Homo sapiens: one gene and its partner. The protein of the gene in region 1 purifies or fractionates together with the protein of each later gene. This does not show direct contact. Each region holds a gene or a part of one and is shown in the gene's direction. Other genes may lie near its edges.

Evidence for each region. Proteins that work in one complex are often made in the same cells at the same time.
Region 2: the proteins of QKI (region 1) and ATE1 purify together in Homo sapiens (affinity purification with mass spectrometry; 2 studies listed by BioGRID and IntAct, with this or other methods). This does not show direct contact.

Annotation. Positions count from the first base shown.
Region 1 is NC_000006.12:163,410,611-163,417,717, forward strand, and holds the start of QKI (KH domain-containing RNA-binding protein QKI), read left to right. Parts: upstream 1-4,107; 5' UTR 4,108-4,354; coding exon of another isoform or gene 4,355-4,566; 5' UTR 4,567-4,583; coding exon 4,584-4,725; intron 4,726-7,107. Other genes in the region: basic proline-rich protein-like, read left to right, coding at 2,596-3,475, 3,639-4,058, 4,355-4,566. UniProt on the Homo sapiens protein: RNA reader protein, which recognizes and binds specific RNAs, thereby regulating RNA metabolic processes, such as pre-mRNA splicing, circular RNA (circRNA) formation, mRNA export, mRNA stability and/or translation.
Region 2 is NC_000010.11:121,739,896-121,743,039, reverse strand, and holds the end of ATE1 (arginyl-tRNA--protein transferase 1), read left to right. Parts: 3' UTR 1-2,616; downstream 2,617-3,144. UniProt on the Homo sapiens protein: Involved in the post-translational conjugation of arginine to the N-terminal aspartate or glutamate of a protein. This arginylation is required for degradation of the protein via the ubiquitin pathway. Does not arginylate cysteine residues.

The DNA of each region.
Region 1 (7,107 bases):
TGATGTTAGAATGTGGAACCATTTTTAGTGTCAACATATTAGATGACAATTTTTCACAGTGAAAAAACCTATTATAGGGATCTTCAACTGGAGGCTCATTCTGTATATATACTCACTACATGTTGTAATTTATTTTCAATACTGTATTAAGATAACATTTTTGTAATAATGTAATTATTACAAAGTTAGTCTTTCTACATTTTTTTTTTTGAGACGGGATCTTGCTCTGTTGCCCAGGCTGGAGTGCAATGGTGTGATCACAGCTCACTGCAACCTCTGCCTCCCTGATCCTCCCACCTCAATCTCCCAAGTAGCTGGGTCTACAGGTATGTGACACCAGACTCTGTTAATTTTTGTATTTTCTAGAGAGATAGGGTCTCACTATGTTGCCTAGACTGGTTTCAAAATCCCGGGCTCAAGTGATCCACCTGTCTTGGCCTCCCAAAATGCTGGGATTACTGGCACAAACACCGCACCCGACCCTCTGCAGCTACTTACTCCTCCTAAGCATCAGCCCTCTCATCTCTGAAATATGGCTCTTCCTGCCTACCTCAAATATTGGCTGTAAGGATGAAAATAAACAATGAAGATAAGGGTTTTGCAGAGCTTCTGGTCCATAACAAGTACTTAATACTTCTTTTGGACATATATTTAATAAGTGCCTACGTGTACCATATGCTGATCTAGGTGTTGGAAATTCCTAATAGAAGAAACTCCTTTTTCTCATGGAGCTTACAATGTTGATGCCAGTGGCAAACGAGTTGACCCATTGTTACGTGGAAACAAATGGTATGAAAAGAACCTGGGGTAAGCAGATGGAAGAAGGGAGGAAGTGTTTGCGTGCACAAAGGCGCCATTTTACATAGGGTGTTAAGGGACACCTTCTAAAGATAAATAGGGGCAGGGGTCGCCGATGTATGGGGAAAAGCTTTCCGAGGAGAGCAAACACCAAGGGCAGAGTCCTGGGGAGGGTAAGCATGCTTGGAATATTTAAGGATCCAGACGGATTCCACGGGGGTGCAGCCAAGTGGGCTGTGGGAGGAGAAGGACATAAGGTCAGTGATGCACCAGGGGCACACCTGTCGTCTTGCAGGACTTGGTAAGCTCTTCGGATTTTTTCTTTCTTTCCTTTTTTTTTTTTTTTTTTTTGAGATAAGAAACCATTGAGGGACTGTCAGGAAATGAGGTGATCTACATAGATTTGAAAAGGTAACCTGCCAGGCACGTGGCTCACGCCTGTAATCCCAGCACTTTGGGAGGTTGAGGGGGGCGGATCACCTGAGGTCGGGAGTTCGAGACCAGCCTGACCAACATGGAGAAACCCCCGTCTCTACTAAAAATACAAAATTAGCTAGGCGTGGTGGCGCATGCCTGTAATCCCAGCTGCTCGGGAGGCTGGGGCAGGAGAATCACTTGAACCGGGGAGGCAGAGGTTGCAGTGAGCCGAGATCGCGCCATTGCACTCCAGCCTGGGTGACAAGAGCGAAATTCTGTTTCAAAAAAAAGAAAATTAACACACAGTAGCTATTATCAAATGCTGTAACCGTAAGTGATTTAATACATAGGAAATGAAAATTGCCTATCATTGTTCTTTAATCTGGTTTAAGTGGTTGAGCCTTATGACACTGCCATTTCTATGGGTCAAAAATGGTGGAATATTGTCATAAAATTCAACCTGATTTAAAGGATAGGGCAAGGAAAAAAAGCAAAAAAAAAAAAAAAAGCTTTAGAATAAAATATAATTGGATTATAATCCCAGACACAGGACTCACTAGCTATATTCTTGGGCAAGTTACTTAACTTCATCTTTCTTGGGTTTCCCCTTATTTGTAAAATGGGGATAACAGTCTAACCTAAGCCCAAGTTGTACTGATGATTAAACGAGATATGCATGTAGGGCATTCAGCATAGTGCCTAGGAGCTTAATAAATAAGCAGGCCATTAAGAAGGGGATTGCATCTTTTACACTAGCAGCATCAAAACCTTGATTTTGATTTTTCTAGGTACTGAAACAGCCTTCATTACTTAGAGACCATAGCTTTTTTGCAAGTTACTATTCCCTGCATTTAGAAAGTTCATCTTTAAACAGGCAATTCAGTAAGTAAATATTCTATGGCTCTAAAACAGATACGGCTGTTGGAGACTTTAAAACATCTGACAGTTACATTTTTAATGTTGTCTACCAAGGCTATTACATTTCCTCTGTCAAAGTAACTTAATTTTAAAAACGAACTCTGTGCTTGTTAAACGAAAAGGCCAGAAGGCTACTGGCTACTCAGCGTTCATTTGAAATTCTTATAGTGCCTTCAGTACAATTCAAACTTAGAGGTGATTCTCACAATTCATGTGAAGCAACATTTTACAAAAAAAATCACCTACGTTCACTGTTAAGTCAGAAGACAGAATGATTAACAAAATCTCAGCCGCGAATTACTCTCACGATGGCCAACTGGATATTAAATAACTCTGCATTATTTTAATGGAATGTTATAAAGGATTTGCAACAAAATGCAGACGTAGATTTAGGGACTGCCGACTTCTATAGATCAAGGACTTCATTGGTGCAGCTGAGGAAATTCTTCCAAACAAGTCTAAATGTTGGAAATCCACCAAACTGCAGAGAAAGACCTCTTGCCTCCGTATTCTTTCTTCATCTGTAAAAATGTTGACTTCTGCTTTTCAGACTACGCGCACAGCCTCTTTATTTCCTACTGCGGCTTCATTCCCTCACGGAACACTGACGCCATCGCGAAGGAAGCATTTCGAGCACGACTGACGCTCCCCTTATTATTTGCTAAGCCGCTGCGCTCGGGTCTGGCTACGATTTGCTTTCAGAATAACGGGAAGGTGCAACAAGATCGCTTCCCTAGAGGCGCGTCGCCCGCGTGGCCCGGACCCCCCACGCCCGCCCGCCGCCCCGTGGGTGCGCACGCGTGTCCGCGCAGGCTTCCCGCCTGGCGAGTGCAAGGCTCCTCTCCGCCGTGCTGCTTTCCAGCCTCTCAGCAAATCACGAACACCGAAAGAAGCCACGGCGGCGACGGGAGGGGCGTCGCGCGTGCTTCCCTCGGCGACAAAGCGGGAGCCGGGCGCGCCGGCCGAGGGCGCCCGGCGCAGAGTCCCGCAGAGGCGGACGCCGCGGCACGCGCCTCGAAAAGCCTCAAACTCTTATCCTCGGCTCTCCCGCCCCACCTCCGCCCCGCAGCCAAGACCCGCGCCGTGGCGGGCCCGACGGCCAAGGAAAGCCCACCAGCCCTCCGCACCGTGGGCGACGGGCCAAGACCCGGCCCTAAACGGCCAGACCCAGCCCCTAGTCGGCTGCCGCCCCCGCCCCACGCAGGCGCGCTCCGGGGCCCTCCCCTCCCCCACCGCGCGCTCGCGGGGCCCGACGGGGGCGGAGCGACCCTCGGAAGGGGCGTGGCGACCGGGCTCGACGCGCGCACGCGCTCTGGAGCCCCACGGCTACGTGTCGGGCCACGTGATGCCCACCCCGAAAGTCCCCCGTGAAGCAACAGGACGTTAAAAAAAAATTTCTCTTCTGCGGGGTGGATAAGAGGTTCTGAAAAAACTATAGTAACGGGAGGCGAGGCGGAGGCAGCGCTGGCGCGTCCCGCTGGAATTCCTCTCGCCTGCCGCGCCAGCCCCGACCGCGCCCGCAGCCCCACCCGCCCCGTGCCGTGGAAAGCCCCGCGCCCCCCCCGCGGCCGTCGGCCCCGCAGCCCACACCCACCCGCCCCGGGCGCCCCGCACGGCGGCGACCCAGTCCTTGCGCCCAGGCCCGCCGAGCGCCGCAGTCCGTCACACTCCCGTTGCCCCCGTCGCCCGCCCCGCCGGGGAGGCAGGGAGGAGGGGGCGCGGCGCCGGCGGCTGCCCCGGTCGCGGGGCGGCGGGCAGCAGGCAGCGGGAGCGCGCCGGCCGGGACCCGCTAACGGCCGCCCTGCGCGGCCCCGCCCGCCGCCCGCCCCCGGCCCTCCCCGCGCCGCTGCCCCTCCCCCCGCCGCCGCCGCTGCTGCCGCCGCCGCTGGCAGCGCCGCCTGAACTGAGGCGAACTCCGCCGCCAAGTGAGTGAGGAGGAGGAGGAGGAGAAGGAGGAGGAGGAAGAGGAGGAGCGCAGTCGGAGCGCGGCGGCAGCGGCAGAGGCGCCGCGGCGGGGACCAGCCCAGAGAGACCCCCCGAGCCCGCGGCACAGGCGGCGGCGGCGCTGAGCGGGCTCGACCAGCCGAGCGAGCGGCGGCCCCGGCTCCTCCTCGTCCGGCGCCAGCAGCCCGCGCCCCGCGCCCGCACTCGGCCAGCCGAGACCCGCCTCCCGCCCGCCCGCCGGCCTCGTGAGGGACGCGCCGAGCCGGGCGGCCGAGAGCGGCGGCGGCTGGGAGCGCGTCGGGCCCGGGCGGAAAGTGCCTGCGGGGGGCGGGCGAGCGCGCGGTGCCGGCCGCCCCGGGGCTCGGCGCGGGAGCCAGAGCGGGAGCCGGCGCGGAGCGGGACGCCGGGTCCCGAGCGGCCCGCGGCCGGGGCTCGCCCCCGCCCCTCCCTCCTCTCCGGCGGCGGCGGCGGCGGCGGCGGGCGGAGTGAGCTGCGGAGCCTGGAATATGGTCGGGGAAATGGAAACGAAGGAGAAGCCGAAGCCCACCCCAGATTACCTGATGCAGCTGATGAACGACAAGAAGCTCATGAGCAGCCTGCCCAACTTCTGCGGGATCTTCAACCACCTCGAGCGGCTGCTGGACGAAGGTGAGCGTCTCCAGGGCCCCGGCCCCGGCCCGACCCCCGCCGGGGCGGCCCCTTTCCCCGCTTGGGATGGTGGGGAGGGCGGGAAGGTCACGGCCGGGCGGGACCGAGCGCCGGGGGGACTGGGAGGCCAGGAGGGCGCACAAAGGAGGTGCCGGGCCGGGCTTGCGGCGGGCGGGCGGGCCGGGGTGGACCCGCCGGTGCCGGACGCCCCCTGCCCGGCCGGGACCCCGCGCCGCTGGCGTCCAAGTTGGCGCGTTGCGGAGGGCTGCGGGGTGAGCCCTGCGGCCCCTCTAGCTTCGGCGGTCACATTTCCGAGAGGTCGGCGGGGGCTGCGCGGACTCGGTGGTCCTCGCCGAGCCCTCCCGAGAGCAGGCCCACGCCGCGCCGCCGGCCTGGAGGACGCGTGTGCCCGGCGCGGGCCCCGCTCCTCCGCTCGGCCTCCCGAGCCTGCTCTGCGCGGACCCCCACCGCCCCGCGTTCGGGAGCTCTCCCCTCCCGTGAGGACTAAAGCGGGGTTTCGTGGTTGGGGAGTTGGTGCAGCTGTTCAATACTAAGTGGAAGTCAGTGTGGGGCTCGTTAGTTTAAAGAAATTCCGTAGGAGACCGAAATTATGCTGGCGTAGCCGACAAGGAGGACTAAGTGACGGCGAAAAGCACTTTTTTCCCTTTTGTTTGGGGAAGCGAGAACTGTTAGGGAGTTGAACTTCACTTTTCGGGGGTGGGGGGGGGGGGGGTGGAGTGCGAAATAACGCGATGACAGATCGGAGCGCAGCCTGAGTTAGAAGAACTTGGGCGGAGGGTTTGCTCCCGGGGACGCAGCCGCCTGAGTTTGTAGGACAGGGTTTCGAGACGTTTGGAAAGGGCGAAATAAAATTGAGCCAAAGTTTCCAAAAAGCTGTATGGAGCGCTGTGGGGAGTGAAGAATGACAAGAAGATTAATGTTGACCAACTTTGGAATTTCCTTAAGAAGTTCTCATAGCAGTACCTGAAGTATTAATTTCTAGTAGCTGTGGGTTTCTGTGGACGCCTAGAGAAAAAAAAGACCACAAAAAAAGTCTGTTTCGAAAATCGACTGGCCAGGAGTTTGTTTGTTTTTTTTTCCTGCTTAGAGGCACCACCGGAGGACTGTGTAAAGGAAACTGAAAACTACAGGTTGAAGAGATGAACAATGGAGTTTAGATTTTTCGCAAGAATTTCGAGATTTTAAAAATAGAGTCGGGGAACAGGAGTTTGAAGCTTGGGGAGTTGGAATGTCACTAGAGAACAAAAGGCCGGAAATGTTTCCATGATAAAAAATGGTTAAAGAAAAATCCCAGGAGTTCTGTTGTCTTGAAAGTCATAGAAACAACTTAAAAGTAGAAAATGGTTAGGTGTTACGGCTTTCTCGTCGTTTTGCTTCCGTATGTTAAACATACAGCACTCACCAACGTTGAAATGGGCATTTTCCGCTGTTGGAACAGCAAATCTGTTAATTTCAAGTTGCTCCAGAGAAAACCTGAGCTGTCCCTTTAAGGGGTTCTGCTTTTCCTATTTGTGTTGGCATTTGAAAGATTGTGGAGGCAGAAAACTTTCTGGAATGTCAAAAAAAAAAAAAAAATGCTGGAACTCTTAAATTGAGTATTTCCAAATGTGAGCGCTAAGGGGCGCCAGTTATTTTTTAACCATGGAAATGGTTGGAACAAAATGTGTAACATACTCAATCTGACTGACCTATATTAAATTTAGTTGAAACTTAAGTTATAGATTATTTGATTTGTCATAATGTGTTTATATAGTGTTTTCGAACATTGAAAATACTTTCCTTAAAATTATTGGCACAACTTTATGACGTTTCAAAATAACACTCTTACTGTCTTCTCCTTGGCATATTTTGGTTAAGTTAAAGTTTTAGTAGTATTAGTAACAATTTCTGGTGAAAGTTTGTTTTCTTGAGTGCAGTTGTTTAGAAGGAATCCTTTATCGACGATAAAATGAAAATAGGCCTTGGCAATATTTAGGGTTAATTAAAATTAAATTGCATTCCTGAAATGTCGAATTCAAAGACTATAGGAGATTCCAAAAAAAAGTTTGAAAATACTTTCACCTTATGTATACTATTTAAAAAGCTGCATACTTTTGCGTTCTTTAGTTTTAAAAGGCTTCTTGTGCTTTTATGTTGATCTAAAATCTCTAAATTTAGAGCTGATTCCTTGTTATCAAGTTTCCAACCTTAGGCTTTAATAATTTTTAATCTTTCAAATCCAGAAATTTCAATTATGTCATTGTCTCTGACAAAGGCTTATTTCTCTCTGGTTGGAAATAGTACTCGTTTGCGTTTTAAATGTAAGAGACCACTATGATATCTCCTAGATAATGTTTGTTTCCCCTTCCCCTTTTAATGTGG
Region 2 (3,144 bases), on another chromosome or scaffold:
TTTCCCCTAGAATATAGTACTCCCTTTTACTCTAAAAAATATCCCAGTTTGGACAATAAAATACATAATTACTCTAGTTATATTATTTGCTTTACTTCTAAAAATGTAAGAAATTGAATTTTTTTAAAGAAAAATGTTGGTTCCTGCCTTGATCTAAGTCTCATCCAAAGGAAATAAATAGTCACTAGTTTTTTATCTTACAACTCAGGACATTTGTCTTTGGTTATTAATGGAAATTAGTATGTGATTACTTTCATAGTTATGCCACAAATCACATTGAAGAAGGAATCATTCCGACCTCTGTTCCAGGACAAGAGCTAGAACAATCCATTTCTTGTCCTTTGATTTGAGAGTCACAGTCAGGGTGGCTTCTGCCACCCTTAGTAACTCAGAGCAGAGGCCAGCCCCCTCCTTCCCTCACTTTCTTTTGCTGAGTCCTTTGCCCACCTGTCAAGGTGGCAGGCACTGTGCTGGGTACAGGAGGACAGTCAGACATGTCCCTTCTTAGCTATAGTCGAGCTGTCTGGGAAACAGGATGAAAAACAGGAGGGTTATTTTCTTGTGCCCTCTTTGTCAGCTGATCCCCTCTTCTGCTACCAGCTATTTGGCCAGCAAGCCGTTTTTAGTCCCCACTTTGCCCATTTTTCTGTTTTGGTTCATCGTTTCTTAAAAGCCATGTTATAAAACATGGTAGTTTGAATCCTGTTGCTAATTTTAAACTTTCCTCTAAAATGTACTGAATTTTGACAAAAATTTGAAAATATCCTCAGCTAACTAGAATAAAAAGGATCATAAAACAATGATTTTAAAACTGAAATCTCTAGAAACTCAACATCCAAGTCAGCCGCATTTCTTCATTCAGAGTGTGTGTGTCACACCTGCCAAGGTGCTGCGTACTCTGCTAACCGAGCTAGAGTAGTGAGCAAAGCCATTTTCTCTGATCACAAGATTTTACATTTTTCTGGGATTTTGACCTGCAAAGTAGTCTCGTAAGAGCATTTGAGAGACTTACTTGGAACTGCCTTCAGAATCTATAGAGCCTTTTTTCTCTTTTTCCTCTAAAATGAAAAGAGCTTCATTTTATGATTATAACAAAAGTGACACTGTAAGCAGTTAGAACATTAAGAAGTATAAATAAAAAGTAAAAATCATCTACAACCCTACCATACTCAGAAGGAGAAAAGAACTGTCATGTATGTATACACACATACCTATGTAATTTTAATATAAATAGAATTATGTTCTACATGCTGTTTTATTTCCTCAACAGTAAATTATGGACATGTCTGAAATGTGAAATAAATTTCAAAATAAGGCTTCAGAAAGTGTAGTAAGTAATCTCTGCATTATTAAAAATAAGCAGGGTAGGGCTGGTACTTGGCTCGCTTAGCATTTGAATGTCCAACTTGGTGTTATCACTGTATCTTCCCTCCATTTGTCTTTGTGATTAGCATGTAAAATGGTATTCATAAAGATCACAACCCTTGAATATCAGATGAAGAGAAAACTTGACTCCAACATCTTACCACAACTCTGGTTTCTTCCTGCAGAATTCATTTTCAGAGGAAAATGATGAATCATCCCTGTCTGTGAACCACTGTGCTTTCCTTGAGGGTGGCATTGTAGGTTGACACCAGCAAAGACTCAGAGTGACTTGAGCATTGGAGATCCTTCTACTTGGCTGCTGTATTCATGCATTATGTTGGTTTGAGAATAGCTAGTGTATTGATCCAAGTAGTCAAAGTGTCTTAAAAGGACACCTATTTGTCCTTTTGAGCCCCAGCTGAGTGAATACTGATAGTGGACTAGAAAAGCATAGTCAAGAAAAGTGACCCACCTTGTTACTTGACCAGCAGTCTAGCTGAGAGATCTGATTTTATGTTCGTAACTTTCTGTAAAGAAAGACACAAGGACTTTTCAAAGACAGTTTATATCTTTCCAAGGCAGGAAGCTTTGCATTTGCAATCTTAGTGTTGTGTCCCTTTCTGATTTTCAAATACATCACACCTGCCTTCCTGTTTTGGGAGCAAAGATGTAATTTCAATTCCCCTTGCTACCGTCCTTATTTAAATTATTTCCATTCTAAGAGATTTTTGTTATTTTTTTAAATGTAATCTGAGCACTTTTTTGTATTCTAAAAGATAGATGATATCAGATAAATATGTTGTACATTTGATTAAAATTATTTAGATAAATATTACTATGTTGACTTTTAAATAGCTTTATCCTATTTTTCATTCATTTTGCAAATATTTGTTGTGTGTAGTTTCTTAACGTGTCAGAATCTATTATGTAAAAGAACCTTTCCAGATTTCTGAACAGTATATGCTTTGATTTTATAGGCTTTATATTATTTCAGTATGAATAAAGATAAGGAATATGAAACAGTTAACTAAAATGTATCTGTCGTTGCTAACTTGAAAAATGAAGTAGAAACAGTTGGAAAATGTTTGAATTAGAAGTTATTCAAGTGCACACTCTTTTCTAAAAGAAAGCCAATGACTATAAGGCAAAAGAAGTTTGACTGCATGTGGTATTTTTTGCTCTTGTATATGCTTTTTGAACAAGCTATTTGATAAAGCCTGAATGGAAAAAATAAAGCTGTTTCTATCTGCAGTGGCTCTTGGTGGTCATTACTTAAAAGACATATGTTTTCATCTTTAAATTCCTGAACACATTTCACCTGCTGTGAATATGTAGAAAACAGAGGTAAAACATTGGCTATATGAGTCATAAAATTTAATTTTCACTAAATGGAGTTCCAGACCATGTGGTTATCTAAATCAAAGTACGGTGGATTCCTTTCTCAGAGAGTAAAGTAAATCCCATTTTAAGCCAGAAGTCTGGATTTTCACAAGATAAATTAGGGAATAGACTTTTATAACCCAAAGGGATTCAAAATAGGACTTTATCAAATTCAAATATAATTTATCTTAGAACGTTTACAGAGAAATTTTAAAAAATATAAAGTGTGCTTTAATTGTTCATAATAGTCTGTGGTATATTTATGCAATACATTTACTAGTGTTTTATCTCTTTACAGTAAAGAGGGTCCTGGTAGGTTGGTGATAAAATGAATCCTATTTCCAAGTGATTTAAATATTAGTTACAATTCCCACTGTCATTTTTTTCCTCCAGAATGGA